Homo sapiens: one gene and its partners. The protein of the gene in region 4 interacts with the protein of the main gene of each other region in a pairwise test. Each region holds a gene or a part of one and is shown on either strand. Other genes may lie near its edges.

Region 1 (7,685 bases), on a different chromosome or scaffold from region 4:
TGCCACATGCTTGTGATCCCAGCTACTCGGGAGGCTGAGGCAGGAGAATCGCTTGAATCCAGGAGGGGGAGGTTGTGGTGAGCCGAGATCACGCCATTGCACTCCAGCCTGGGCGACAGAGCAAGACTTCATCTCAAAAAAAAAATAAATGTGAATGCGGCTTTGTCCCATAACCATCAGACCTCCTTTCCAGAATAAAGGAGACTGCACAAAACGTGTGACATTTACCAAACCCTCATTTGAGCATCCAATAATTTAAAACAATGGCAATGGCAGGAATTATGAAGATGACATTCCGGGTAAGTTCCTGGTTGCGTCTTCCCCAGTTTCATACCTGTTTAAAGTCTAGTGTAAGTCTGGCCTTTCGTTGTTAAGCTGAAGCTAAAAAAGTATTGGATTAGGAAGGATTCTGCCTTCTGTTCAGTCTTCTAACAGTCCTTCTTTTTCTGATTAAGAAAAACTTCTGTCCCCAATTTACATCTACTTATGCTTTCAACCAGCACAGAGTATACCTGCTCTACTTCTATACTAAAGACTGACTTCTCCCTTCTTGGAGTTAAGAACCCTGAACCATGATCCATTTCTTACCATCCACCTTTGCTATCTAAGACACCCTCTCCTTCTTCCCTTGAACCGTCTGCCTCCTCTCCTATAAAGCTTCAGCAGCAGGATGAAGACTCTCTAGTATTCTTCTCATACTAATTGCGTCTCCTTGACTGGCTGTTGCCTCCCCCTTCCTTCCAGCTGGGTGCTCTGCTCTTCTTTTCGCCACCCGTTTGGTGGATTTTAAGCTTGAGAGCACAGACTACAACTGCTGCCTTCTTCACCAACTTCACAGCAGAGCCTTGCAGACAGTAAAATCCCAATAAAATGACGGCTGACTCACCCTCTGGGTGTCACCTCTGTCAGCCTCTTCCATGGGACCCTACGTTTACTTTATACTCACAGCTCCACTTACCTTCCCTAGGCCAAAGCTGCTAACTGCTTTAACCTCTACTCAGCATCTGAATATCAGACAGTGTTTTGTTTGTTTATTGGGTTTGGGTTTTTTGTTGTTTTTGTTTTGGCTGTGCTTCTGAGGAAGTCTTGCTCTTTTTCCTTTCAGTTCTATTCCATTAGGCTTTTTGCTGTGAAATTTTGAATCTGGAAACTCAAGAGAACCGACATCGCAGACTTTGATTTACATGCTGTCAATCTGCTTTGGAAGGTCATGTGGCAAATCTGCCCTTGAGGACCATTTTCAGACAGGAAAAACAGTAATTTCAGCCTGGCTGCTTTTCAGAATTCTTTGCAAACATCAGATGCTCACAATCCAACCGTTTCTCTGTGTACTAACATGTGCTTTTCAAAATGAGTGTCATATTCTTTTTAGTAATACTTTTCTGTGTGTTATGCCCTTTAAATAGTTCTCGTCTTTAACTCCATGTGGCTCTGGTTTGTTTTGTGCCATGCTATTTTGCCCCATTTTCAGGTAACTTTTCTACCTGAATTACTTAGGACCTCTGGATTTATAGCAGATTTGATAAGACATAGATGATAGCATATTTAGATAAGGATCACAGCAAACAGAACCTCACTGAAACCACCCATTCTTCCTGCTTCCACATGGCAGGGTTGCTCAAGGTTTATAAGTAATGATTTTGGCTTTAGCAGCCGGAAGGTATGAGGGCTAAGTGACCTTCACACATGTTTATCTTAAATTATAGATAATTTTAAGAGTCATGAATGGGATTACTACTTATCTATTTTATAAAAGCTAATTATTTGGGATGCCCATCAGAAGAATGGTATCCCTTATCAAACGCTTCCTTAGACGTACTGAATAAAAGCATCAGTTTAGCCGGTACCTGTTAAGAGGCTATGTCTTTCTAAGAGATGTGTTATTTGATTCTAATTATAATTAACTTTGCTTATTACTAAGTAGATAATAATTTTCTCATTTCATATTTTTTCTGAATAACAGTTTTTCTCCCCATAGAGAATATTCAGAAGATGGAATCCTTTTAACGTAGAACTCAAGATGTGCCCTGTTCTCCCTGCCCGCCTCCCATTTCCCTAAACACACACACACACACACACACACACAAACACACACATTCTCCCTTCTCTCAAGATACTTTTTTTCCAACTGAGAGTCGTTGACTAATCACAGATGAGTTAATCCTTCCACAGTTTTGAAAAAGTCTAGCAACCCTCACCTTGAAGAGAGTGAATAGCGTGGCTAATCCATCTAAGAACAATGCACGAAAACGAAAAACGGAGAATCCTGCCCGGCAGTTAATTTGTTACTCATACTTGTTGAACTTAAGATTTGGAGCTAAATAAGTGCAGATGAGAGCAAAGACCCATCTTTTAAATATTTAAGCTTTTAGGCAAACCTGGGCAGGCAATATCACATTTATCAGTGCGAATTCTCCAATGCTCTCTAAAACTTTATTTCAATGATCTCACCTCCTGTAAGGAATTAATTCCCCCTTAGCTTGACCACAGGATCAATATCTTATCTTAAGAAGTGTTTAGGTTTTCTAAAAAAAGACCAGACACTGAAGACTTACATAAACATCAAAGCATTCTTTTTTTAATTCCTCGATATGGAGAAATTCATAGGCCGAAAATTAGGTAAATAGAGAGGTAATTACCAATGCCTGTTTCCTTGACAACTCCCCTCCCCCACCCCTCCTGTGATAGGGAAAAACCAAAATGAAAGTGAGGAGGGGTAGCCACAAGCCATGCTGGATTTTAGCAAACCAAAGCAAGAAGCAGAGCAGAAAGCTGCAAACTAGACACAAAATACAAATAAATCAATGTATATCGGGGCTGCATATTGTGTAGTATTTTTGTGGTTGCCATAGAAACGTCAGCGACGGAAGAACATGTTGCATGACACAAAAGAGAGCAATATGTAATAGGAACATTCCCCCCACCACCACCCCCCGCCCAGCTTCGTCTATAGCAGAGAAAATGCTTTAGCCCCGGGAGGGGGCTGGGTGGGTGGGTAAATGAAGCCAGGAACAGCAGCTTGAAATCACAGCCCAGAAAGGGACGCTCACCCGGCCCAGCACAAAGCGAGGGTCCTTTTGTACCAGCAGAGCCTCTCTTCGCCTCCCTCCAGGCGCCCCCTGCACCTTTCCCCCGCCCGCCTTGCACTCCCCCCCCGCCCCCGGAGCCTACCCCTTCCAGAGGTCCTAAGGAAATCCAGCCCAGGAGAGAAAAATATGCTGGGAAGAGGAATGCAAACATCAGCCACACCCAGCGGGGAAGGTGCCTGCGAACGGCACCAGGACCACATACCTCCTTCCTGGCAGCCTTTGGCACATGGACTTAGAAACCAGAAGCTGAGATGGAGCCGGCTGGGTTCAGAAATTGCCACTAGTTTATAAGAGCTGTAAGTCAGCCAACACTGGAAAGAAAAAGCGAGACTCCACCCATGGGGTGGACCCTTCAGGAAGAAAAAAAAAAAAAAAGTGGTCCTCAGCTGACGTCTCTCCCCACCCATGTCACTTCCTTTTAAAGCTACAAGTTAGCAGTTGCCGAGAGGGAAGAGCGAGCTGGTGTAATATGAGTCACTCCCTTCCCCTTCCAATTAGTGTAAGGCAGTGCTTCAGTTGGCTTCACGTTTGAAATCGCTTTTGAAATCTGGCTCGGGAAGCTGCCAGGATAAAAAAAAAATGAAAGCCCCCTGGAAGTGGCCTTGCTTTCTCTCCCCTTTCTCCCAAATCCTGTTGCATCCCTGCGCCCTAACGGCTCCTCTAACCTCAACCCAGACTCCGGCTCCGTCTGTGTTGCAACCTGGAAATTGTCCTCAGTTGGCTCATTTTTAATTCAGCAAGCGTAGGATCAATATGCCCACCCTCAAAACTCTCCCCTCACCTCTCCTCGGTCCGCTGTGCTGGAAGGAGATTGCGTTGCACTCAGAAGAGTCCAAATCATCTTAAACAAAATAAGCCTCAGCACTCAAGAGATTGAGATGTTATGAAGTGGGATGAAAGAAGCTTGGAGGTCGATTGATGTATTTTCTGTTTTCAAACCTTAGCACCATGGTTGATTACCACTGCACAGGCGTGCACACACGTACTGTCGCATGCTCACATGCACGTGGCATTTACACAGGTGTATCAGAGAGGGTCTGGGCAGACCTTTATAGTAAAAGTGTCTTCACAATTTTTAAAAAGGGTGGGCTGTTGAAAGTCCAGAAATGCCAGGATCTAGAAAATTATTTCAATTTCAAAATACTGAGGTGTATTCCTTTCAAATGTCCACTATTACAGCCATTGTCAAAATAATATTTAACTATTTACTTGACTCCTGGGTTAACCTTGTTCTTTAGATGTTTATAATCTATAAAGGAAAAATACATGTGCTCACAAATAGCCCAAGCACATTGCAGAATTACTAACAGCTATGCAAGTGTCAAAACCAGTGTGTCATGAAGACAGAATAGAAAGTGCTTTTTTGATTGCGATGGGGGAAGGCATTGATCATTCAGGAAACAGGGTTTGGAGTGGGTCCTATGGGAGGTGGCATTTTTCTTGTCTGTGATGAGAGACGGGGAGAGTGAAGCAGAATGTGGTGGAAGAGAAAGGATATGTGAGGCAAACAAAAAAAGGATCAGAACAGAAACCCATTTGTAGCAATAACTTGTTTTAATATCCATGTGAAAATAAATTTGACCACAGAGTAATGCTTATAAAAGATTTTTATAAAAAGTTCCTTGTAGTCATCATCTCTCGTAACTTTTCGAACTATGTTTTACGACCCATGTGCTTCTAGATTTGGTGGAAACTTGAGTTTTTCAAAGTGTTTTTCAAGTAGAGTTACACTGTTTTTCACGGTTGAATTCTGAATGGTAATTTATTTCAAAACCTACAAATTGCATAAATTCCTGATAATGTTATAAGTACAGTCAGTGATTTCAGTGGAAATGATAGGAAATTTAAAATTTGGACAATTGTAACTTTTATCCTGATCTCAGTACTTTAACATCCTCATTCCATTATTACATTACAATTATTATTATACTTATTATTGCTAACACTTTGCCTGTCTAGACAATGTTGCTCAGTCCCAGTTATCTCAGATATAGCTGAGAAATATGGGAGAAAAAGTTACTATTTCTAAAAATTTAACATAGAAATTCAAAATTCATGGATTAAATCCTATGCTTTTTTTTTTGAGACAGAGTCTTGCTCTGTTGCCCAGGCTGGAGTGCAATGATACGATCTCAGCTCACTGCAACCTCCACCTCCTGTGTTCAAGCAATTCTCGTGCTGCAGCCTCCCAAATAGCTGGGATTACAGACATACACTACCACACCCAGCTGATTTTTTGTGTTTTTGGTTGAGACGAAGTTTCACCATGTTGCCCAGGCTGGTCTCTAACTCCTGACCTCAGGTGATCCACCTCCACCTCCCAAAGTGCTGTGATTACAGGCAGGGAGTCACCACGCCCAGCCCTATGCACATTATTGAGTGCCATTTAGAGTCTATCCTTATGTGCCCTTATTTAGCTATTTCTATCTATACAAGGAATTGTGAATATTTCCAGGTCACAACGTAACAACTCAGTTCAATGTATGTTTATTGAGCATCCATGTTAGTTGCTGAAGATACAAAAACACAGATAAGACATGGAAATGGCCCCAAAGTGCTCAAAGTCTTAGAAGGGAAAGCGAAATGTAAACAGTTAAGACACAATGGAGGCAATGATTGACATTTGTACAAGATTCAGAGGTGGTTCGAGAATGGGAAAAGGAGAGGGAGGATACATCTACATAGTTTCTTAGCTAACAGTGGACTCTAAAAGGGGTGGAGGTGGACAGTATACTCATCCGTGAGATGGTAAGAAATAAATACTGGCAGTTGGAGAGAGGAGAAAAAAATTGAAAAGGAGACACAAATCATAAATTGGTAACCTAAAAAAGATATATAAGTGGTCCGTAAACAAAGAGGCAACCTTACATAAAAATACAAGTCACAAAGTAAGGATGTTATTTCTTTGCCTAGTCACTTGTCCAACACTCAAAAAGCTAGAACGTGCAGTGCAGAGAATGCAATGCCATGGGTTCTCTCTTCTGCTGGTGATGGCAAATTGATACAATCTCTGGAATTCAATTAAAGAAGATTTTTCATGAGCCTTTAAAATGTTCATACCCCTTAATCCAATAATTCGACTCAGAATAATTTATACCAAGGACATAAGCAGAGATAAATTCAAAGATTTGGGAACATGTATATTCATCAGAGCCATTTATAATAGTAAAGTCTGGAAACCATCTGAGTGTTTGAAGTAGCAGGTTAGCTATGGAAATGATGTAATCTTCATATGATGAAACACTCTACAAAAAATTAAAATTCTGTGTTTGAAAGACCTAGGGAAATTCATGGTATCTTAAGTGTAAAGGGAACTAAGCTTTATATAAATTATGGTCCCGTTTTCGTGATTCTATAAATATATATTACAGTGTGTGTAGTGGGTTGAATAAGTGTCCCCCAGTGTCCCCCACAAATTCATGTTCACCCAGAACCTCACAATATGAATTTGTTTAGAAACAGAGTCTTTGCAGATGTTAATCAGCTGAGACGAAGTCATTCTGGATTAGGATGGGCTATAGACCCAATACCTGGTGTCCTTATAAAAAGAGGAGAGGATGCAGAAAGACACACACATAGAATAAGGCCATGTGATGGCGGAGGTAGAGATGGGAATGATGTGTCTATGAATCAAAGATTGCTGGCAAACACCAGAAACCAGGAGAGACGCATGGAACAGACTCTCTGAGAGCCTCCAGAAGGACCCAACCCTGCTGATGCCTTAATTTTAGATTCCTGGCCTCGTGAACTGTAAGAGAATAAATTTCTGTTGTTTTAAGTCACACAGTTTGTGCTAATTTGTGATGGCAGCTCTGGGAAACTTAATGCAGTGTGATGAAGATCATGAAACTGTTAATAATCATTACTTCTGGAGAGTGAGATTGAGGATGATTTTTATTTGCTTCTTTATATGTGATTGCACTTTGGAGAACTTTCTACAATGGATGAACACGTGTGACTTTTACAGTAACAAGATTAGGACTAAAAACCAAATAACCTAGGTTTCTGAAACTGTTTCTGCAATTTAGAACAGACATAAACAATAATCAGTGATGCTTACGACACGGTGAGTCCTGAGGAGTAACATATTTTCAAAGCCCAGTGAGAGGTAGAATTCTGCATATCTCAGAAACTTCTTTAAACCTAAGTTTTGGTACTTAAAATGATAACTATCACTTATCTGAAATGTGAACTTACACACTATGTATTAACTGTTGTGCTAGATAGTGGAGTCACTGATGGCATTGTTACAAATTGCCCATTCTGTTAGCACAATGTTATTACACATTAACAGTATTTTTGCTTTATTTCCACTTGCCTCGTGTTGTGAACATTGATACAACATCCACACAAACCTATACACTGAGTTTAAAAATGTTCTCAAGTTATACAATATGAAGATATAGATTTGCAACTATGATGACCTCATTATGTGCTACATTGGAAATTGTGGCTGCTTAGAGGAGACAAAGGAAAATTGTAAATGCTAAAGTTAATTTGATATTTGGGGTCTATAATCTTATATTTAATAGTTATATATGTCAATAAAAACCCAATAAAGTTCTTAAAATGTTGTATGTTTTTATGACCAACAAA
Region 2 (6,804 bases), on a different chromosome or scaffold from region 4:
AAGTGTTTGCTGTCACCAGGAACTCTGCTGGGCCTAGGGTAGGGTCAGGGGCTGGGCTGGGGACCCCGGCTAGGCAGAGCCAGGGCTGGGACCGGGAAGGGCATGGGTGTGGGATGAGGGGCAGGAGGTTCGGGGGAACAGAGATGGAGCTAGGGCTGCAGCCAGGAGGTAGAGTCCCCCTCTACCCCCAGTCCCAGCCTCACGTCAATTCCTCCACACACCACCCCACCCCCAAGCAGCTTGAAGAACCTGCTCAGTCCTCAGCCTGAAGTCTGCAATGTCCTGGCAGGGCCGGGCAGGCTCTGAGCGGTCTACGGAGACACTCCTGGGAAGCGGGCCTCCTGCCGCCTGGCTCCCAATGCCCCGCTTCCCCAAACACCCCAAGGCCCTGACAGTCCCTAGTTAGGAGCAGCTGCTGGGGAGCCAGGCCTGGCTTAAATCCTACTTCCTGGCTAGAGCACCTAGTTTCACCTCTCAGAGCCTCAGTCTCCCCATCTGTCCAGTGAGGACAACAGCGGGCAGTGGCGCCCTTGTTTGGTTGCGGGGCGATTCCCAGAAAGCCTGAAGTCCATGTCCAGTGAGTTATTATGGCTCCTCCCGCCTCAGGCCCGAGTTTCACCCAGTCCCCACTCCACGGTGCAGCTGCGGCTTATCTCTCAGCCCAGCGAGATGCCAGCCTTCCTGTCCCGGGTGAGCTGCGCACCCTGCCTGGGGAGCAGGGGAGGAGGGTTGGGGAGCCACAGGCACAGGGCCAGCCTCCCGGTGGCTCTGCTAAGGCCAGACCTCCCGCCACCCCTCTAGGCCAGCGCTCTGACATGCAGAAGGTGACCCTGGGCCTGCTTGTGTTCCTGGCAGGTGAGTACCCATCCCCCGTCTGCCTTTTCCTCTGGATCCCCTGGATGCGGGGATCCAACCTCTGTCTCTCTCCTGTGCTTTTCTACCTCCCCGGGAAGGTGGTAAATGTTAGAACAGCATCTCCCTGAGGGTAAGAAAAGTCAGACTAGTGATAGCCGGGGATACACGAGAAGAGCTGGCTCACACAGCTGGAAAGTCACCGTCTTCCCCATTCTCTCGATCTCTTCTTTTTTTTTGGCTTTTTTTGTTTTTGTTTTTGTTTTTGTTTTTGTTTTTGAAAGGGAGTCTCTGTTGCTCAGGCTGGAGTGCAATGGCGCAATCACAGTTCACTACAGCCTTGAACTCCTGGGGTCAAGCGATCCTACTCTCTTAGCCTCCTACACAGCTAGAATGCCAGGCACACGCCACCATGCCCAGTGCATTTTTGATTTTTTGCAGAGACGAGGTCTCACTGTGTTGCCCAAGCTGGTCTCAAACTCCTGGCTGAGTTTGATCCTCCCACCTCAGCCTTCCAAAGTGCTGGGATTACAGGCATGAGCCACACTGCACTGGCCTTGATTGACTATTAAACAGAAATAACGGAAGCTAGAGAAGATGATGAAATGACACCTTCAAAGCACTGAAAGAAGATAACTGCCCTGCCAGTTCTCTAAAAACTTCAAGTAGAAGGCTCAGCTCAGTGCGACTGCATCTTTAACTTCCAAACACTTTTCCCTTTTTTCTTTTCTTTTTTTTTTTTCGGAGACAGAGTCTCGCTCTGTTGCCCAGGCTGGAGTGCAGTGGCATGATCTCGGCTCACTGCAACCTCCACCTCCCAGGTTCAAGCGACTCTCCTGCCTCAGCCTCCCAAGTAGCTGGCATTACAGGCGTGTGCTGCCATGCCTGGCTAACTTTTGTATTTTTAGAAGAGACAAGGTTTCACCATATTGGCCAGGCTGGTCTCGAACTCCTGACCTCAAGTGATCCTCCTGCCTCGGCCTTCCAAAGTTTTGGGATTACAGGCCTAAGCCACTGTGCCCAGCCCGCTTTTTACTTTTTCACTGCAGCCTTGACCTCCCAGGCTCAAGAGATCCTTCCACGTCAGCCTCCCAAAGCTCTGGGATTACAGGCACACTTTTTGTCCATTACATAGGGCAAGACCAGTATTCCCTGCAGGGTAGTGATCTAAAATTACATTTTCAATAAAGTCTATTTAAGTGTATAATAGTGAGTCATTTTCAATGATGTGCAAACACCAGACCAGGTGGGTGTGGACATGGTGGAAGCGGGAGGATGGGCTTTGAGCATGATTGGACTTGGGGAAACAGGAATCTGGGAACTGAAACCATCTGTCGTCTTGACCAGAAAAGTCCCCCGCTGCTGCAGGAGGCATGGATTAACCACGTGTCTGGAAACATGAGACCAAATAGTGGCTAAAAACCTCCTAGATTAGAACCCATTTCAGGTGGCAGAATGCTGGCGTGACTCGGAGGTGTGGGGCTGAGTGGGCGAGTCCACATTTCCTCGTTGGGATATGAGGGGATGAGGTGGCTGCTCAGTGACAGGACCCCTGTCCCGCAGGAGACCCTTTCCCAAGGCCCCTGAAACTCCCCAGGCCCTGCCCAAAGGCTTGGCTGAGGCCGGCATCACCATCTCCCCTCCTTCCCCTCTTCTCCCACTAGGCTTTCCTGTCCTGGACGCCAATGACCTAGAAGGTGAGTCAGACTGGACTCTCACCCGTCACACCCCCAAATTCTCCCCTGGGTGGGGAAGGCCTGCATCCTGGCTGTAATCCTGGATTCATGATCTTTTTTCTTTCCTTGCAGATAAAAACAGTCCTTTCTACTATGGTGAGAGCCCGTGCCCCCTTTCCCCTCCCCACAACCCCACATACTGCTTGGTGCCAAGGGTTCCCATACAGGGTTGGGGCCTGACGTGAGCATCACAGGACAAAGATACGAAGGGACTAGGATGGGGTTACTGAATATGCCACACAGTGGATTAAAGGAACTAGAGGCAGCAACCTGGCCTTTGGGAAGGTTCTATTCCAGCAAGATAGACACACGCAGGAGGTGAGGACAGTTTGCAAGAAGCCATTGGTTGGTTCAGATCAACTGCTGGGAGAAGTGTTGACTTGAGAAAACTTCCTGGAGGTGGTGAGCTATTGGATCAAAACCCTCATCTGGCCTCCAGGTTCCAATGACCTGCTCCCTACTCCCCGCTCTGCCCTCACCTCTCCACGCTCCTCATTCCTTCTGCTCCAAGCCTCTCAGACACAGCAGACATACTGCCAGCCTCAGACCTCTGCACCTGCTGGTTCCTCTGCCTGGAACACTTCCTTCCACAGAACCACATGGCTCCCTCCCTTCCCTCTGCTCAAATGCAGCCCCCTGAGAGGCCTTCCCTGACAACTCCCTCTAAAAGAGCTGCCATCTGACTTTTTTTTTGTTTTAGAGACAGCGTCTCACACTGTTGCCCAAGCTGGAGTGCTGTGGTGTAATCATAGCTCACTGCAGCCTCAAACTCCTGGTCTCAAGCGATCCTCCTGCCTCAGCCTCCTGAATAGCTGGGACTGCAGGCATACACCACCATGCCTGGCTAATTTTTGTATACTTTGTAGAGATGGGTTCTCACTATGTTGCTCAAGCTGGTCTAGAACTCCTGAACTCCTGAAGTCCCAAAGCACTGGGATTATATTAGGTTGGTTCAAAAGTAATTGTGGTTTTTGCAACTGCTTTTAATGGCAAAAATGCAATTTTTTTTTTTTGAGGCAGAATTTTGCTCTTTCACCCAGAGTGTGACTGGCTGGAGTGCAATGGTGCAATCTTGGCTCACTGCAACCTCTGCCTCCCGGGTTCAAATGATTCTCCAGCCTCAGCCTGCTGAGTAGCTGGGATTACAGGCGCCTACCACCATGCCTGGCTAATTTTTGTATTTTTAGTAAAGACGGGGTTTCACCATGTTGGCCAGGCTGGTCTGGAACTCCTGACCTCAGGTGATCCGCCCACCTTGGCCTCCCAAAGTGCTGGGATATCAGGCGTGAGCCACCATGTCTAGCCAAAAACGCAATCACTTTTGCTCCAACCTAATAGGTGTCAGCCACTATGCCCAGCCCGCCCTCTGACTTTCCATCTCCCACCCCACTTATTTTTCTTCAAACCACTTATCTCTGCCTGACCCTGCACGACAGATCGTGTTTGCTGGTGTGTGAACCAGAATGTGAGCACCTGGGATTTTGTCTGTTTTCTTATGGCGGTGTCCCCAGCACCCTGTGCATCCTAGGTGCTCCATATATATTTGTCAAGAGAATGGGGGGACAGATGGAGAGGACACAGGCTGGCACTGAGGTCCCCTCCACTTTCCTCCTAGACTGGCACAGCCTCCAGGTTGGCGGGCTCATCTGCGCTGGGGTTCTGTGCGCCATGGGCATCATCATCGTCATGAGTGAGTGGAGGAGCTCGGGGGAGCAGGCGGGCCGGGGCTGGGGCTCCCCTCCCCTGACCACTCAGCTCTCCCCAACAGGTGCAAAATGCAAATGCAAGTTTGGCCAGAAGTCCGGGTAAGATACTGTTCCGGCATGCCCGCCTCAGGCTGACTGGACGCTTTTCAGGGTGAAAGGGCTAACTCTCCCAGCAGGAGAGGCCTCGGGGCTCTGCCCTTTAGAGTTCCTGCCGCTAAGATTTCCAGGTTTATTGTTTCTAGCTGGTAATCCCCAGGGGGCCCCAAATCCTGAAATGCTTTGGCCCCTGGGATTGCACAACCCCCCAAATGGAAAGGCAGCCAGGAAGACATGTCTGGGCAGGCTAAGAACCCTCTATCCGGAGGGAGAGGGCAAATGGGGGCGGACACCAATCTCACCACTTTTGTCTCCTTAGTCACCATCCAGGGGAGACTCCACCTCTCATCACCCCAGGTAAGATGGGGCAGCATGGGGCTCAGGGGAACACGGAAGTGGTGTGTGTGTGTGTGTGTATGTGTGTGTTTGCACACTGGAAAGAAAAGAACTCAATCCACCCTCACAAACGGACCCCATCACTTCCCGCAGGCTCAGCCCAAAGCTGATGAGGACAGACCAGCTGAAATTGGGTGGAGGACCGTTCTCTGTCCCCAGGTCCTGTCTCTGCACAGAAACTTGAACTCCAGGATGGAATTCTTCCTCCTCTGCTGGGACTCCTTTGCATGGCAGGGCCTCATCTCACCTCTCGCAAGAGGGTCTCTTTGTTCAATTTTTTTTAATCTAAAATGATTGTGCCTCTGCCCAAGCAGCCTGGAGACTTCCTATGTGTGCATTGGGGTGGGGCTTGGGGCACCATGAGAAGGTTGGCGTGCCCTGGAGGCTGACACAGAGGCTGGCACTGAGCCTGCTTGTTGGGAAAAGCCCACAGGCCTGTTCCCTTGTGGCTTGGGACATGGCACAGGCCCGCCCTCTGCCTCCTCAGCCATGGGAACCTCATATGCAATTTGGGATTTACTAGTAGCCAAAAGGAATGAAAGAGAGCTCTAACCAGATGGAACACTGGAACATTCCAGTGGACCCTGGACCATTCCAGGAAAACTGGGACATAGGATCGTCCCGCTATGATGGAAGTGTTCAGACAGTTTATAATAGTAAGCCCCTGTGACCCTCTCACTTACCCCGAGACCTCACTTTATTACAAGATCTTTCCAAATACCCAAATGTCCCTGCAAGCCCGTTAAATAATTCCCTATGCTACCCTTAATAACATACAATGACCACATAGTGTGAGAACTTCCAACAAGCCTCAAAGTCCCTTGAGACTCCCCAATACCTAATAAGGCATGCGAAATGTTCTCATGAACTACCCCACAACACGCCTAAAACTCAAAACACCCAAAAATATCTCCTCCAATGTCCTGAAACATGAACCCAAAAAGAGACCCACAATAAACTCGTGACTTGTCCCCTCATCATGCCGTTTTATCCCTCAAACATCCCCTGAGTCCCTCCATAACCACGAACCCACACTCAGAGACCATGAACTGCGGAAACGCCTCCCTGGGACCTGGGCCGCTCCGAGCACTGCTCCAGGGACACCATCCCCGCCCTGTGCCGTTCACAGGACATCCTCTCCCAAGGATCCACAACACTGGGCGGGGAGGGTGCACAGCGCATTTATTGAGCTCGGACTCGTCTTGTCCTTGCCTCCGTCGCCCATCTAGAAGGGCACCAGGCTCCCCGCGACACCTCCCGCTGTCCCTCCCTGTGCCCCGGCGCACGCGCAAGAGGCGCAAAAGGCACAGCTTGCTGGGCGGCCGCACGCATGCGCACAAGCAGCAGAGGGGAACCCGCCCAGTGCTGAGTTGTCTTCGAGGTTGGCGCTCCTCCAGGAAAGCGATTGGCTGCGTGGAGTTTAGAATGGGAAAGGAATGCCATCAACCCCTCGGTGCTTTCAGAGGGACCAGCGGGGTAGGAGCGGGTTGAGAGGGGGGCTCCGGGACCTCATGGAGCTCTGCACGTGACCTCCACCTCGACTCCATGCAGTGCACCAGCCTGCACCCCCCAGGTTGCCTTTGATGGGGAATCTGCCCCAGCCGAGATGTCCAGATGTTGCTTTAGACCTGAAGGGCAGCTCGGGAGGTCCAGTAGGCTGGGACCCTCTATGTCCCCCCATGGGTGCAGATCCTTTAAGAAGTGGGCTTAAGGCCTAGACGTGTGGCTGATGAACGTGGCCCACGGTCAGCAGCTCACAGGCGGGCCATCACCCCAAGTAGGGCCAGGAGCCAGCCAAGGGGCCGTCCAGGGGCCCCAGCCATGCCCAGAGTCCCGTTGGTGGTCTCAGGCACTGAGGTCGATCTCGTGATGCTGGTAGATCTGTGTGGGGCCCTTAAAGCAAGCAGCAAAGAGGAAGCGTCTGCCGGCCATAGTGATGTGGGCAAAGGCACGGGGGGCCACCAGGGCCGGAGGCCCCAGCTCCTGCAGTGGCTCCAGGAGCCCCTTGTCAGGCTCAA
Region 3 (8,638 bases), on a different chromosome or scaffold from region 4:
CTGATGACAGCTCTGTAGCTGCTCCTTAGAAACATGCAGATATGGCTGGGCATGGTGGCTCATGCCTGTAATCCCAGCACTTTGGGAGGCCGAGGCGGGTGGATCAACTGAGGTCAGGAGTTCGAGACCTGCCTGACTAACATGGTGAAATGCCGTCTCTACTAAAAATACAATTCACCATTTAGCTCTTCTATCTGTTATCTTCTAATTGTTATAAGCCTCAATTTCCTCGGTCAAATGAGTTTACCTATCACATAGGGTTGATTAAAAGGATCAAAAGAGATTGTAGGGCTGGGTACAGTGGCTCATGCCTGTAATCCCAATACTTAGCTGGGCGCAGTGGCTCATGCCTGTAATCCCAGCACTTTGGAAGGCCGAGGCTGGCGGATCATGAGGTCAGGAGATCGAGACCATCCTGCCTCACACGGTGAAACCCCGCCTCTCCTAAAAATACAAAAAATTAGCTGGGTGTGGTGGCAGGTGCCTGTAAGTCCCAGCTACTCGGGAGGCTGAGGCAGGAGAATGGCGTGAAGCCTGGGCGACAGAGCTAGACTCCATCTTAAAAAAAAAAAAAAAAAGAAAAGAAAATCCCAACACTTTGGGAGGCTGAAAGGTAGGAGGATCACTTGAAGCCAGGAATTTGAGACCAGCCTGGGCAACACAGTGAGACCTCATCTCTACAAGAAATATTTTTAAAAGAAATGAGACTGTAGAAGTGAAAGCATTTTTTAAGTGCATACAAATGAAAGGCATTAATACTTTCAGCATAGGTGGCTTAGAATTAAGATAGAACAAGCTCTCAAATTCTTGCAGAATAAAATGTAACCACAAAGCTACCTGAAGTGTCTACAGTGTAATTCGAGAAAGCATACAAGAATGAAAACACTCAAGAAACCATATAAAAATATGGTTATTAAAAAAAAAATCCGAGCGCGGTAGCTCACACCTGTAATGCCAGCACTTCGGGAGGCTGAGGCAGGTGGATCACTTGAGGTCAGAAGTTCGAGACCAGCCTGTCCAACATGGTGAAACCCTGTCTCTACTAAAAATACAAAAATTAGCCAGGTGTGGTGGCAGGTACCTGTAATCCCAGCTACTTGGGAGGCTGAGGCCTGAGAATCTCTTGGGCCCGGGAGGCGGATGTTGCAGTGAGCCGAGATAGTGCCACTGCACTCCAGCCTGAGCAACAGAGTGAGACTCCATCTCGAAAACAAAAAACAAAACACCATGTGTACATACTTATGTTAACCTCAAAGTTACCACTGTCTAAGAAACTTAATGTTCCAGGCCATATCCATGTCTCCTAATTGGTTTGAATAAAGGTTGCAGCTAATGAAACTGAGGTTGCTTACGCCACCCAGTATTTGCCACACACTGCAGTCCTTATTAGCAACACAGCCTTCATTTACTTCTGCAAAGAACTTTACAGCTTTTGTTTTAAGACAGGGTCTCACTCTGTTGCTCAGGCTGGAGTGCAGTGGCATAATCACAGCTCACTGAGGCCTCAACCTCACAGACTCGAGATCATCCCACCTCAGCCTCCTGAGTAGCTGGGACTACAGGTGCATGCCACCACGCCCATCTAATTTTTGTATTTTTTGTAAAGACAAGGTTTCACCATGTTGCCCAGGCTGGTCTTCAACTCCTGAGCTCAAGCAATCCTCCTGCCTTGGCCTCCCAAAGTGCTGGGATGACAGGCATGAGCCACCGCGTCCAGCCAACTTTACAGTTTTAACAAAAAGGCTCTCTCACATCTGTTAAATTATTTGACACTAAAAACAACGAGGTAAATGCACAGGAAGCAAGACTGAGGGTTAAGTGATTTCCTCACTGTCACACGGCAAGTAAATGACCCAGCTTGACCTTACAGGTAAGCCACCTGACTCGTAGTCCAGTGTGTTTTCCGTTATAACTTGTTTTCGTTTTATGAAGCCTATCTGAGTAGTAAGATATTATCAAAGGCTGAAAAAAAACCAACATTGTGGATAAAACAATAAACTCAGTTATTTATGTAGTGAAACAGAAAAAAAAAATCCCTAGGTAAACTTAGAATGGCTAACATTTACTAAGCACATATCACGTGCAAGGCACTCTTCAACATGCTTTCCATAGGTTATCTCATTTCATTCCTACATTGACTATTTTAAAAATACTTATTACCCTAATAAAAATAGCTACATTTATTAAGTACTTGTAGTGTGCCAGGCACTTAAGAGGCATGATTTCATCTAATCTTCCTAATGACCCTGTGAGGTTGCACTATGATTCTCATTTAAGATGAAGAAACTGATACAGAAGTCATCGGATTTATCCCGAAGGCAGGCATCTAGCAAGTGACAAGGCCCAAACTCAAGCCCCATTCTGCTTGGTTCTTTCTTCTGCCCTCCATGTGCCTCTCTAAGATAAGGGGTAGGGTAGATTCGGGACTTGTGTGAAGTAGGGTTGATTGGCTCAAGAGTGAGACAGAGAGATACTGAGCCACTTGACTTAAGAGGTTCAGCTCCTGGGGTTGAAAGAATCTTCAGATACCATTTGGACTAACTGGCCTGTATCATACCTGACAGATGACAAAAATTAGGGCCAAGAAGGGAAGTGACTTGTCCAAGATCACATAAACAGAAGATGCAGCCAACATGTATTAAATGCATACTAAGAGCCGGGTACTGTGTTAAGTACGTTTATTTGAATGATCCCAATCAATCCCTGCTTATGAGCTAAGTACGACATATTATTACCCCCATTTTACTAGTGAGGAACTCAGGCTCTGCAGGTGAAGTCACTTGTCCTGGGTCACGGAGCAATCCAAGCCTAACTCCAGATTTCTCTTCTTAGCTATGCCATATGGACTCTCGGAACTCAGTGGGACTCAAAGTTTGAGGAAGGTGTTTGATGAAGGAAATGAACCCCTTGCCTGAAAAATATCAGATTCTCGAGCACGAAATACCAGTCCCTCACCCCCGCCACCTGATCTAATTCACTCCTACTGCCATATGGGAAATAGAATGCTCAGAAGGAAAGCGGCTTGTCTGCAGTCACCCGGCCTAGACTCTAAAGGCAGGCTCCTATCTCCGGGCCAGGGTCCCCCCTCATCAATGCCACCGTCTCCGGTCGACCCCCCCACCCCCTCCATTGCGGGGTCCACCTCGGGACTGGGTCGGCCCTGGGGCAGGCTCTCAAGGGCCCAAGGGCTGCCATCCCGCGAATCCCGGCTGCAGTACAAGCTGGAACCTGAAGGGCAGAGAGTACCTGCAGGAGGAGACCGGAGGAGGCCAGCCGGGCCGCGTGGCCCAGCACCTCCTGGCTGCCCATAGCCTCCGCGCCAGGCTCAGACACCAGGAAATGCCGCCGCCACTCCGTTTAGTCGCGATAAGATGGCGTCACGGCGCGCCTCGCTGTCTGATTGATGGCCTTGAGAGAGGGGGGCGGGGCACGAGAAGTTCTGGTCCTTTAAGTGGGCCTGTCTCGGGCCGTCTGTTATGGCGCCTGGCTCTTTCTATTTCGGTAGGTTTTGCGCTGTCTGTCGCTTGTGCGCTGTCTGTCCCTCTCTTCCCCGTATAAACGAAATAGTGTGGCGAGTACTAAGAGATACCGTTAAAGAATCCAAAGTTCCTTCTCTGAGGCTTTCAGCCACCAACCAAGAAGCACTAACTTTCCTGGCCTCATCTGCCAAAAGGGGAACAAACTTCTCACTGGCCCGTTAAGAAGATTCTCACCATTGACCTTTGCTTACAGAATCACAGCCACAGACCCTCTGAATTAGGCTGGACAGGAATTGTCCTCATTTAACAGAGAAAGAACTGAGGACCAGAAGTTAGATATAGCACTGTTATGTGTATGGTTTTGTGAAATCCTTCCGAAAGCTCTGAGAATTGGCCCCTGTGGTTAGAGATGAGTAAAGCCTTGGAGATGGGAAGTGACTTGTTCGAATCTACACAACTTGTTTCCTGACTAAGTGGATACCAGGCTCCTGATCCTAAACTTATCACTCTTGCCTGTATGCTAGAAATTGTGAGGGCAGAGTGGAAGAAGGACTGGAAGTGCTTTGTAAAAAAATGTAAAGCGCCCAACATACACAATCAGCTGCTGTTCTGTCAGTGTTCTTATTATCTACCAAGCAGGCTGTAGGAAGCCCAGTCTTTCCCCAATCTCTTTCAGTCCTCACATGATTTGGCCCCAACCTATCTTCTACTACCTTTCACACGATCATTGCCCTTCCCAACACTATCTAGGCCATAGCCATTCCGAGTCCTTACTGGTCCTCAAACAGGCGGTGACTCACTGGCCTTTGCTCCTCCACCCTCTTTGTCCAAAGTGTCTTCCCTGACAGCACCCCTTGCCCTCCTAGACCACACTGTCCTGACTTTCCTGGCCAACCACAGCTGGTACCTGCTGTGGACTAAATGTTTGTGTACCCTCAAAATTCATATGTTGAAGCCTAATCCCCAGTGTGATAGTATTAGGAGGTAAGGCCTTTGGGAAGTAATTAGGTCCTGAAAGTGGAGCCGTCATAATGGGATTCATGTCCTTATAAAAAGAGATGTCAGAAAAATGATCTCTGTGTTTACTATTTGAGGATACAGCAAGAATGTAGCTGTCTGCAACCACGAAGAAGGCTTTGTAAAATGTAAGGCGCCCAACATACACTTAACAGGAACCAAACTGGCTAGCACCTTGATCTTGGGCTTCCAGCCTCCAGAGCTGTGAGAGAAATTTCTGTTTTTGACTTACCCAGTCTATGGTATTTTGTTACAGCAGCCCAAGCAAATCAAGACAGTACCCCTAAAATACTCTGTACCCCTTTATAGTTCCTAATGCAATCTGCATTATAGCAGAAAGACTAGAATATGTGTCTCTATATAATCAGCCCATGAGCTCCAAGAGGGCAGAAGTGCAGCCTGCCTGGTTTTGCTTCCTGAAGTAGCGGTACAGAACATTCTTAGGGCTCCTATAAATGTCTCCTGACACATGACTGCTGCTACTGCTGCTGGAAACAGACTGTGGAACTCAAAGCCTATCACTCCCATCTTCCCAGGTGAAATGAGCTCTGTCTTAGTGTGGAGGCCCAGAATGTGAGCTTTTCTTTTTCTTTTCTTTTCTTTTCTTTTCTTTTCTTTTTTTTTTTTGAGACAGGGTCTCGCTCTGTCTCCCAGGCTAGGGTGCAGTGGTACAGTCTTGGTTCACTGCCGCTTCCACCTCCTGGCCTCAGGTAATCCTCCCACCTCAGCCTTCCGATTAGCTGGGACTACAGGCGTGCAGCACCAGACCTGGCTGATTTTTTCTGTGATTTTTGTAGAGATGGGTTTTTCCCACGTTGCTCAGGCTGGTCTCCAACTCCTGGACTCAAGTGATCCGCCCACCTCAGCTTCTCAAAGTGCCGAGATTACAGGCATGAGCCACCGCACTGCACCCTGCCCAAGAATGTGAGCTTTTGTCTGTCAGAGAGAACTGACCTTGAATCCTCATTCTGCCACTCACTGACTGGGTGACCTCAGTATGCTCAGCTACTAAATAGGGATATTATCTGTCCTGTAAAAATAGTCATAAGGATTGTTTCAGGCAAGTCTGGCCCTCAGAGAGCTTAAATTCTAGTGAAAGGGAAACTGAAAAAAACTCTAACAAACAAATAAAATTTCACATAGGGCTAAGTGCTACGAAAGAATGAAACCAGGTAAGATCCTAGAGGCTTTGGAAGAGAGAGAGGGGTGCTGTTTTAGGATGAGTGAGTTGGGCACCCACCTGGGGAGGAGTGTACTTGGAGAATAGAGAAAGTGCTGGAGGGTCCAGGTATTTGGCATAATGGCTGAGATGCTAAAGACCTTGACCTGGGCAGCCTTCCCACCCCCCTGGACTGTGGGCCAGCAGGTGAGACAGCCTCCCACTTCCTTTATTCCCAGCCAAGCAGTCTCCTCCTCTACAGCTCATCCCCAGAGTAGAACCAGCCAAGAGTTCATCATGTGCACACACTCCTAAGCCTGGCATCCATGTAAGCTGCTTTGGGAGGGAAGAAGTGATCATTTTGCTAGGAGCAAAGAAGTCAAAGGGGAAATGCTCCAAGCTAAGTCTAAAGGGCAAAGCATTCTAGGACCCCAAGGTATGGACTCTGTGGGGCTCCTGGGTGAGGAATCCAGGGACTTTTTCTCTTATTCTGGAAGTTAACACTTGGCAAGGAGGGACTGAGCAGAGCCCAGAGCCGTGCTGGGTTCTGGGGTGGGTGGGGAAAAAGGAACTGTGAGGAGAATCCACAAACATTGACCACTGACTCCATGTCAGGCACCTGTCTGAGCACTCTACATGCGTGTACTCCATCCTGTCAATAACCTATGAGAGAGGGACTGCAGATCAGGAAACTGAAGCACAGGGATGTGACGTAACTCATCCAAGGTCATTCAGCAAAGGAATGGTCAAGGAGGTATTTGAACTCGGGTCCCTTCTGATTCCAAATGCGTGAACAGTAATGTTCCTCCCTTCAAAAAAAGCTTCTGATTGTAAAGGAGACCTAAGAGTCCCTATATGTAAGCCACAGAGAACATATGTGGCATTGAGAGAGTGGAGTCTGGGAGGGCTGCAGCAGTCGAGCTGTGGTAGGCTTGGAGGCATTCCCTCTCCCCAGTGAGGATCTCTGAAGGTCTTGACCCTGTTGGAGATACTGGCCTGCACGCTCCACTGGGAGTTGCATACTCCATGGTCTTGCCCATGGAGGACTCAGCTCAGGGCTGGCAAGTAATGGCCCACTGGACGTTGCATTTTGTATGGCCTACAAGCTAAGAATAGTTTTTACATTTGTAAATGGTTGGAAAAAAATCAAAAGAATATTTCATGACACATGAAAATGGTATAAAATTCAAATTTCAGTGTCCACCAGGTACAGTGGCTCACGGCTGTTATCCCAGCACTTTGGGAGGCCAAGGTGAGTGGATTGCTTGAGGTCAGGAGCTCAAGACCAGCTTGGGCAACATGGTGAAACTCCATCTCTACAAAAAAATACAAAAATTAGCCAGGCATGGTGGTGCGTGCCTGTAGACCCAACTACTGAGGAGGCTGAGGTGGGAGGATCATTTGAGTTTGGAGAGATCAAGGCTGCAGTGAGCTATGATCATGCCACTGCACTCCAGCCTGGGCAACAGGGTGAGACTCTTGTCTCAAAAAAAAAAAAAAAATTCAGTGTCCACAAATAATGTTTCATTGGAACATAGCACACGTACCCGTTTGTTTACATATTATCAATAGCTACTTTCTTGCTACAACAGCAGAATAGGTTGGTCCACAAAGCTGAAAATATTTGCTAGATGGCCCTTTACAGAAAAACTTTGCCAATTCCTGGTGATCACCATTGAGCACCTGGGATATAGTAAACATTTCAATATTGAATGAATGAATGCATGTGTAAGTGCATTGGAATAAATGAATGATGAAGGACTAGGAAAGGAAGAAAGACAAGTACATAGGGCTCTTGTACTCTTGGTCCTCTTGGAGAGGAAGTGGCCCCTTGAGAATACCAGGCTGTAACTGGTGGTCATTGAAGGAGCCGTTTTCCCCAGCCTTCCTCCCCGCCTCCTGCGTCTGTGCCAGGTAGCCTCCCTGCCAGGGAAATCTGACCCAAGCCACCTATTTTATTACAAAGCTGGAGGGAAGTGCCAGAGCTGGTGCCAAGCCAATTAGGCTCCTAGGGCAGAGGAGCAGGGAGGGAGGCTGCTAGTGGGCCAGGAGACAGGGTGGAACCTCTGGCCAGCTGGGCCATGGATCTCAGCTAGGTGGAGGCAGGAGAACTGGGCATGGTCCCACACACCAGCCACTAGGTGGCAGATCGTCCTGGGTGAGGGCGCTGCCTGGCCAAGGCTTCTGCGTCCCAGAGCACCTCCATCAGGGCCCCTTCCAGAAGCAGGACCTCAAGGCTCTGCCTCTCTCAAGGCTCTGCCTCTCTCAAAAGTCCCAGGGCATGATAATGCAGCTGTGATACTAGTCGTCCACATCTGTCTAAGTAAGCACTGTGCTGGACACCTCACTTTCATGATCTCATTTAATTCCCATAGCAGCCCTACAATGTAGGCACCATTATTATCCCCATTTTACAGGCCAAGAAACTGAGGCTTGACAAAGTTAAGGGACTTGCCTAAGTACTAGTGAATGGTAGTGCCAAAATTTGAACTGGGCAGTGTGGCTTTCAGTCCCTTAACCAGACCTAACCCAGAGGGTTTATTGTTAATGCTGATTCCTGGGCTCCACCTCAGCAATTCTGGGGTAGGCTCAGGAATCTGCATTTACCAACACTCTGGGGGCTTCTTCTTTTTCTTTGTTTTCTCCTTCTCCTTCTTCCTTTTTTTTTTTTAAGACAGAGTTTCGCTCTTGTTGCCCAGGCTGGAGTGCAATGGTGTGATCTCAGCTCACTGCAACCTCCGCCTCCCAGGTTCAAGTGATTCTCCTGCCTCAGCCTCCCAAGTAGCTGGGATTACAGGTGCGCGCCACCACCCCCAGATAATTTTGTATTTTTGGTAGAGACAGGTTTTCACCATGTTGGTCAGGCTGGTGGTCTTGAATTCTGACCCCAAGTGACCCACCTGCCTTGGCCTCCCAAAGTGCCGGGATTACAGGCATGAGCCACTGTGCCTGGCCAGCCACCATGCCCAGCCTCTGGGGGCTT
Region 4 (7,844 bases):
CTCAGTTACCCAGGCAATAATAGCTCACTGCAGCCTCAATCTCCCAGGCTTAAACAATCCTTCCACCTCAGCCCCCTGAGTAGCTGGGACCACAGGCATGTGCCACCATGCCTGGCTAATTTTTAATTTTTTTTTTTTTTTTTTTGTAGAGATAGGGTCTCACTATGTTTCCTAGACTGGTCTTGAAGTGCTGAGCTCAAGCTATCCTCCTGCCTGGGCCTCCCAAAGTGCCAAGCTTACAGGTATGAGCCACCATGCCCGGCCCCTTGGATAAGTCTTAAGCTTGTGTGAGCTTCAGTTTCTCACCTTGCAAATGTGGTTAGTGATAGCAGCCCCCTCCTAGGCTGTGGTGAGGACTTAATGAGGAACGGTCACAGAGCTCAAATGTGTAGTAAATGCTTCATCAATCTTCGCTTAAGAAAAAAACAAGAGCGGATCACCTGAGATCGGGAGCTCGAGACCAGCCTGGCCAACATGCAGAAACCCCATCCCTACTAAAAATACAAAATTAGCCGGGCGTGGTGGTGCATGCCTGTCATCCCAGCTACTTGGGAGGCTGAGGCAGGAGAATCGCTTGAACCCAGGAGGCAGAGGTTGCAATGAGCTGAGATTACGCCATTATACTCCAGCCTGGGCAACAAGAGCAAAACGCTGTCTCAAAAAAAAAAAAAAAAAAAAAAAAAGAAAGAAAAGAAAAGAAAACAAAACAAAAAAACAAAAAACAAAAAACAAGAGCCCCTTTGAGGCAGGTTGGGAATGCTATGATAGCGTCATTTTTAGAGTTGAAGAAACTGAGGTTCAGAAAGGTGATGTAACTTGCCCCAGGTTGCCTGAGTAATTGATGAGGGAGACTTGGGTTTCCATGTGATTCCATGTGATTGATAGCACAAGCTCTGAACCCACAGCGCAGGACTCTCTGCTCACACTGGCTCCGCTATTCCTTGGCTGTGTGACACTGAGCAAGTCAACACTGCTGCTGAGTCTTGGTTTTTCTCATCTGTAAGATAGGGCTGCCTGTCTCTTTTCAGAGTGCCCTTTGTGTCTCGTGGCTCGGGGACTTTTTTCAGGGGTGAGAGTAGGAAGCAGAAGCTATTTGAAGACAACCCTTCTTCCTGTCCTTTCCTGAGAACCTGAGCGCAGTGAGAAGGTTAGGTCACGTGGGTGGGGGGTGGGGAGAGAAGAGTGTCCATCTGCCATCCACAGCCAAGGGGAGAGGAGAGATTGTCCTTGGCTGGGAGGGGACCGAGGTCTTGGGCACCTAGAATTTGCTTTCTGGGAAGATGGCAGGACCTCTGGGGGAAGTCACTGGGTGATATATCCTGGATGTCAAAATGAGACACAGTGGTTTCAGGTCTTACAAAGAATCTGGACTCCAGGCATGCCAGGGAAGTGGGCAAGGCTGGACTTCAGACAATCAAGTCCATTTGGGCAATGGGCATCCATCGTAGGAGGACCCAGGAGCCTCCCTCACGCTTATGTTCTGTGTGTCCTCTGGGTCAATGTGCATGGGTGGGGATGGGAGTGAGGGAAGCTCAGTGCACTTGGAGATTAAATTTCCTCCTAGCCCAGTAGGATGAGGCTCAGGGTCCTATTGAATGTGACTTCAACTGAATAAAGAAAAGATCAATTTATGCACACCCGAGGGTGTGCAGTAAGAGTGACTGGTACTGTAAAATGAGGTGGGAAGAGAGGGGGCTGGCGCTGGAGGGCTCTGCTTGGCTGAGCCAGGCTGCCATTTTCCCGTCTTCACTGCCTTATCCTGGCCTTAGCCGGCCAAAGGGTAAAGGATATGCTTCACCTGCCCAGCGCAGGTTAGGGGGTCACTCTGGTAAGCCACAAGGTGGTTACAGAGCTGGGGCCAGGATTATTGGGACTCCACCTCCTGAGCTCTCCCTGAACTTCTCCCCAGCCTCCATCCTGGTTTTCATGCTGCCAACGTGTCTACTTGCCACTCATTCCAGGGAAAAGCAGCCAGGCCTCATTTTATCCTCATCTCAGATCCACAGCAAGAGCAGATGGGGTGAAGATCAAACTCTCCACCACAGCCATTCCCGAGCCCTGTGCTGCTGCCCGCCCTGTGCCCGCATCAGACAGTTGACTCGCAACAAGCCTGTGAGTGACCTTCTCAGGCCCATGTTTCTCAGAAGAGGAAGCTGAGCAGGAAAGAAATGGAGTGATTTGCATTAGGCCATCGAGCTACCAGTGGCAGAGCTGGGATTCAGACCTGGACGCTGACCCCAGGGCACACTGGAAAATACTGCTCTTCCCTCCGCTGAGTGGAACTTACACCAAAGCAGACCCCTGGCCTCCTGAGTCCAGTGTGCCCCTAACACTACCTTGTGGTCTCCCCATCTATAAAATGAGAGCGCAGGACTCACCTGGTCATCTCAAAGGCCTCTGCCAGCCCCTGTCATTTCCTGGCCCCCATCTACTGTTGCAGTCCACACCTCGTAAGGCAGGATAGCCTGGTGGCTGAAGGGTGGGCCGCGAAGCCGGAGTGCCTAGGCTCAAGCCAATGCTCTCATTCAATGCCCGCATGATTTCAGGTGGGTCACCTAGCCCCCACCTATCAAGTGGACAACAGTGATAGCTCCTACTGCATACGGCTGTTGTGAGGATTAAATAAATCCAACCACTAAAGGCTCTTAGGGCAGCGCCTGGCACACAGTAAGGCCATCTCTGTGTGTGTGATTCTTGTCTCTGTAATGAAATGAAAGCCAAAGTCCTGATTCTTGGTCCTAGGAGGGGGATGCCAGCCCTGAACTTTCCTGCGACTGGTCCTCCACAACCCCAGGTGTCCTGAAATGACATCTATCCCCTGCCCCAGACAGGCCCACCTGGCTTCTTGTGTCCCTGGAGGGAAGGGATAAGGTAAGAATACAGGTTTTGGCCAGGTGCAGTGGCTCATGCCTGTAATCCCAGCACTTTGGGAGGCCAAGGTGGGCAGATCACCTGAAGTCGGGAGTTCGAGACCAGCCTGGCCAACATGGTGAAACCCTGTCTCTACTAAAAATACAAAAATTAGCCAGACGCAGTAGTGCACACCTGTAATCCCAACTACACGGGAGGCTGAGGCAGGAGAATCGCTTGAACCTGTGAGGCTGCACTGAGCCGAGATTGTGCCACTGTACTTTAGCCTGGTCAACAGAGCAAAACTCCGTCTCAAAAACAAACAAACAAACAAAAAAGAATACAGGTGTTGGGGAATGAGGAAGAAGCCTAAAATAAACAACAAAAAAAGCTACTCACGGTTGTGTTGTGGGTGGCTGGGCACTGGGAGCTGCCGGGGGCTGAGGAGTCCCAGTTGTTTTCTGTCCTCTCCCAGGACCTGGCCGTGGGTGCCACTCAGAGCACCTGTTGAGTGCCACCCCAAGCCAGCTTTCTCTTGCTTTTGTACTTTCTCACAGATGAGTGAGTGTGAGGAGGTCTGGCCTTCCGTGCCTGTTACCACTTCCCCTCCAGGTCCCTGGTGCCACAATGCTCTTGCCCCTGCGGTTGAGTTATCTCTTACAACGAACTCTGGCCAGGGTGGGGCATGGGCCTAGACCCTGGAGTCAAGGGACTTGGGTTCTAATACAGCCTCGTTAAAATGTTGATTCACTTAACTTCCCCAAAGGCAAGTTTCTTTATCTGTAAAATGGGGATAATGCACCAACATTACAGTAGATCACCTAAAAGGACATGCCATTCCAATGCCTCTTCACCACTAGGCCAGAGCTTTGAAATGCAAATGCCTACAGGCAGATTAACATAATGGGTGATGGATCCTGGTGTGGGGCAATAGGGAGTGGTAGGGACTGTGGGTAATAGGGGGAACACAGGACCCAAGTGGAAAAGCTTGGCTGGAGCTGAGAGGTACCTGACCCTCTCTACTGGCCCAGCTGAGAGGTATCTGCCCCACACCCCAGACCCTGATCTGGGCCAGTAGAGAGGGGCAGGTACCTCTTAGTTCCAGCCAAGCTTTTCTGCTTGGGAGTATAGGCAAATTGTCAGATATTCCAAGCATTTGGAAGTTGTGCTGTATTTTTCAAGAGATACCAGAAATCTTGACTTATGTGATAGCTTCCTGTGTGTGTGTGTGTGTGTGTGTTTTGTTTTTTGTTTGTTTGTTTTTGTTTTGAGACCAAGTCTCGCTCTATTGCCCAGGCTGGAGTGCAATGGCGCAATCTCGGTTCACTGCAACCTCTGCCTCCTGGGTTCAAGCAACTCTCCTGCCTCAGCCTCCTGAGTAGCTGGGACTACAGGTGCACACAACCACCTCCAGCTAATTTGTAGTTTTAGTAGAGACAGGGTTTTGCCATGTTGACCATGCTGGTCTTGAACTCCTGACCTCAAGTGATCCACCCACCTTGGCCTCCTAAAGTGCTAGGATTACAGGGTGAGTCACCACGCCCAGCCACTTCCTGTTTATTTTATTTTACTTTATTTTATTTTATTTTAATTTTTTGAGGCAGGGTCTCGCTCTGTTGCCCAGGCTGGAGTACAGCGGCACGATCATAGTTCACTGCAGCCTCAAATTCCTGGGTTCCAGTGATCCTCCCATCTCAGCCTTCCAGGTAGCCGGCAGAACAGGCATGTGCCACCACACCTGGCTATTTTTTTTTTTTAATTTTTTTGTATAGATGGGGGTCTCACTATGTTGCCTAGCTTGGTTTTGAACTCCTGGGCTCAAGCAAATCCTCCCGCCTCAGTCTCCAAAAGTGTTGGGATTACAGGCATGAGCCACCATGCTCAGCCAGTTGCCAATTTTAGAATGTAAAGCCCAAAGTCACACCTTTAAAAAATGCTATGTGAGTCAAACTAAACATTATCTTCAGTTTATATTTATTAGGGAGTATGTCCCTAATGTCCAGTCCTGGGCTGGATGTACTCAGGTATGGTATCTGATATAGTTCCAAGTGTCCTCACACCCACTCTCAGATAAAATATTTAATGAGACGCCATTATATTCTAAGGATACAGAGATGATTATGGCAAAGTTTTTGCCCTTGTAAACTCATGGCCTATGATTATCTCATCAGATCCTCTCACTAACTGCTCCCCACACCCCAGACCCTGATCTGGGCCAATGAAGAAAGATTTTGCCCCTGAGGTAGAGTTGCAAGATTCTTCAAGTAAAAAATGTTACAGGCATGAGCCACCCCACCTGGCCCAATGAATTATATTCTTGAAGATGATGGAGAGTAGATTTTAAGTGTTCTCACCACAAAAATAAGTATGTGAGGTAATGCAACAATAGTTGAGACATTCAGGCACTAAAAATTACTTGTTGCTTATGTGCGATTAGAATGCTCAGCCTAGCGTGGTGGCTCACGCCTGTTATCCCAGCACTTTGGGAGGCAGAGGCAGATGGACTGCCTGAGATCAAGAGTTCAAGACCACCCTGGGCAACATGGTGAAACCTCATCTCTACTAAAATACAAAAAATTAGCTGGGTGTGGTGGTGCGTAGTTGTAGTCCCAGCTACTCAGGAGGCTGAGGCATGAGAAATGCTTGAGCCACAGAGGCGGAGGTTGCAGGGAGCCGAGATCGCCTTACTGCACTCCAGCTTGGGCTCCAGAGTGAGACTCTGTCTCAAAAAAAAAAAAAAAAGAAAAAAGAAAAAGAAAAAAAAGAATGTAACCAGGCATTCTCTGTCTTATCTGGCAACACCACCCAGAGGGGACACTTGGCAATATCTGGAGACATTTTTGGTTGTCACAACCTGGTGGAGGAATTCTACTGACATCTGCTAGGGAGAGGCCAGGAATGCTGCTAACCATTCTGCAATGCACAGGACAGCCCTACAGCAAGGAATTATCCAGCTCAAGATGCTAACTTGCGAACCCTGGTCTGGACCTAGTCCTGGCTCCTTCAGCGCAAAGCCATTGCTGGGAAGGGCCTTTAATTTGATCATTCATCCCTTTGGGAAATGGAACAGTAACAGCCTCCAGCCCTTGCATCTCTCCCAAGAGCAAGACATTGGCAGTGAGGAATGGGACAGAGAGCCCCAGGTGCCAAGAAAGAGGAAAAGAAGACCAGAAGGAGCTGGGGAGTGGGGCCCGCCTGCAGCCTACATCAGACTCCTATCTGGGCTGGAATTGGAGACCCAGGGGTGAGCTGGAAGAGATCTAGCAGATGCTTCCACAATCCTGAATCCTAGACCTCTGGCCTTGAGAAAGCCCCACATGGGGAAGAAGGGTGAGGCTGTCCCCAAACGCCTGGTCCTCCATTGCAGCCCAAAGCATGTAATTGGAGGTGGAAGGCATGAATGAGTGAAGGAATGAATGAACGAAGGAAGAAAGAAAGGAAGTTACTGAAAGTTCAAGTGGAAGGAACGCTGGGAAGCGGAGTTTTTGTGTGGTCTCTGCCATTGCCTGGCTGACCAACAAGTTGCTTCCTGTATCTGTTCTCAATTTCTCCATTCCTAAAATGAGGAAGTTGGAGATAACAGGTGCCCCTGAAACGCCTGAGTGCATGGAAGTCACCCACAGGGCCTGTTAAAACACAGATTGGGGCCGGGTGAGGAGGCTCATGCCCGTAATCCCAGCATTCTGGGAGGCTGAGGCGGGAGGAGGTCTTGCCTGAACTCAGGAGTTTGAGGTTATAGTGAGCTCTGATTATGCTACTGCACTCCAGGCTGGGTGACAGAGAGAGAACCTTGACTTGAAAAACAAAACCCCAAAACACAGATTGCTGGGCCCCACTCCCAGAGATTCTGATTCAGTATTCTGGGATGGGGCCCAAGAATCTGCATTTCTAACTAATTCCCAGGGGAAGCAGATGCTGTCGGTCCTTGGACTCCCTATGGGCAGCACTGGACAAGAGAATCAATAAGGAAGCTCCATGATCTCTCAGTCCCCTGGGCAGGGCTGATGGGGCCCACAGGGGAAGTCTGTTCTCTTTTTGCCCTGGGAGGGCCAGGAGCAATTGTAGGTGAGGGTTTAGGAGGCGGTTTTCTCAGCTCCTTGGGTAGAGCTGGCCTCAGCAGCCCTTGTACTGTGAGATGCCGCCATCTACAGGATGGATCTACCCCATGCTGGGGCCGAGTGCTGTCATATTGAGGGTCTGATCTGAGGAGGAACATTCCCGAGAGGTATACTTTTCCTGTCAGGCCACAGGGAAGCAGTCTTTGCACTGTCTGAACCAACTGACCCTAAGATGGTTCAAAGCCAGGCATGGTGGCTCATGTCCGTAATCCCAGGCCTGTGGGAGACCGAGGAGGAAGGAAGGATTGCTTGAGCCCAGGAGTTCGAGACCAGCCCAGGCAACATAGCGAGACCCTGTCTCTACAAAAAATAAAAAATTAGCTGGGCATGGTGATGTATGCCTGTACTCACAGCTACTCAGGAGGCTGAGGCAGGAGGGTCATGTGAGCCCAGGAGGTCAAGGCTGCAATGAGCCATGATCTGCACCACTGCACTCCAGCTTGGGCGATGGAGGAAAAGAAAAAAAAAAAAGATTATTCAGTTTTCAGTGTAAATGTTGGTCCCTGAATTAACTTGGGAAAATAAAACAAAATGTGTCTGCAATCATATGGGATAACATATTTTCACCAAAACTGTTGTTATGTTTTGCCTTTTAAACCCTGCTATACAGTATTCCTTTTAAAATTAATTAATTTTTTAGAATTGTCAAAAATTGTATACATTTAACATGTACAATGTGATGTTTTGTAATATACATATACATTGTAGAATGGCTAAATTGAACCAATTAGCATATGCATTACCTCATATACTTATTTTTGTGGTGAGAACACTTAAAATCTACTCTCCATCCGCCGGGCACGGTGGTTTATGCCTGTAATCCCAGCACTCTGGGAGGCCGAGGCGGGCGGATCACGAGGTCAGGAGATCGAGACC

Evidence for each region.
Region 1: the proteins of CNR2 (region 4) and AGPAT4 interact in binary tests that used the Homo sapiens proteins (3 or more experiments, as listed by UniProt).
Region 2: the proteins of CNR2 (region 4) and FXYD3 interact in binary tests that used the Homo sapiens proteins (3 or more experiments, as listed by UniProt).
Region 3: the proteins of CNR2 (region 4) and RFT1 interact in binary tests that used the Homo sapiens proteins (3 or more experiments, as listed by UniProt).

Annotation. Positions count from the first base shown.
Region 1 is NC_000006.12:161,270,647-161,278,331, forward strand, and holds the start of AGPAT4 (1-acyl-sn-glycerol-3-phosphate acyltransferase delta), read right to left. Parts: upstream 3,416-7,685; 5' UTR 3,292-3,415; intron 1-3,291. UniProt on the Homo sapiens protein: Converts 1-acyl-sn-glycerol-3-phosphate (lysophosphatidic acid or LPA) into 1,2-diacyl-sn-glycerol-3-phosphate (phosphatidic acid or PA) by incorporating an acyl moiety at the sn-2 position of the glycerol backbone.
Region 2 is NC_000019.10:35,118,562-35,125,365, forward strand, and holds the end of FXYD3 (FXYD domain-containing ion transport regulator 3 isoform 1 precursor), read left to right. Parts: exon of another isoform or gene 1-38; intron 39-606; coding exon of another isoform or gene 607-690; intron 691-801; coding exon of another isoform or gene 802-815; coding exon 816-855; intron 856-2,516; coding exon 2,517-2,549; intron 2,550-2,660; coding exon 2,661-2,684; coding exon of another isoform or gene 2,685-2,773; exon of another isoform or gene 2,774-3,104; intron 3,105-4,116; coding exon of another isoform or gene 4,117-4,203; coding exon 4,204-4,278; coding exon of another isoform or gene 4,279-4,356; coding exon 4,357-4,393; coding exon of another isoform or gene 4,394-4,397; exon of another isoform or gene 4,398-4,642; intron 4,643-4,709; coding exon 4,710-4,747; intron 4,748-4,879; coding exon 4,880-4,896; 3' UTR 4,897-5,763; downstream 5,764-6,804. Other genes in the region: LGI4 (leucine-rich repeat LGI family member 4 precursor), read right to left, coding at 6,632-6,804. UniProt on the Homo sapiens protein: Associates with and regulates the activity of the sodium/potassium-transporting ATPase (NKA) which transports Na(+) out of the cell and K(+) into the cell.
Region 3 is NC_000003.12:53,127,092-53,135,729, forward strand, and holds the start of RFT1 (man(5)GlcNAc(2)-PP-dolichol translocation protein RFT1), read right to left. Parts: upstream 3,345-8,638; 5' UTR 3,310-3,344; coding exon 3,247-3,309; intron 1-3,246.
Region 4 is NC_000001.11:23,909,997-23,917,840, forward strand, and holds the start of CNR2 (cannabinoid receptor 2), read right to left. Parts: upstream 3,367-7,844; 5' UTR 3,250-3,366; intron 1-3,249. UniProt on the Homo sapiens protein: Heterotrimeric G protein-coupled receptor for endocannabinoid 2-arachidonoylglycerol mediating inhibition of adenylate cyclase. May function in inflammatory response, nociceptive transmission and bone homeostasis.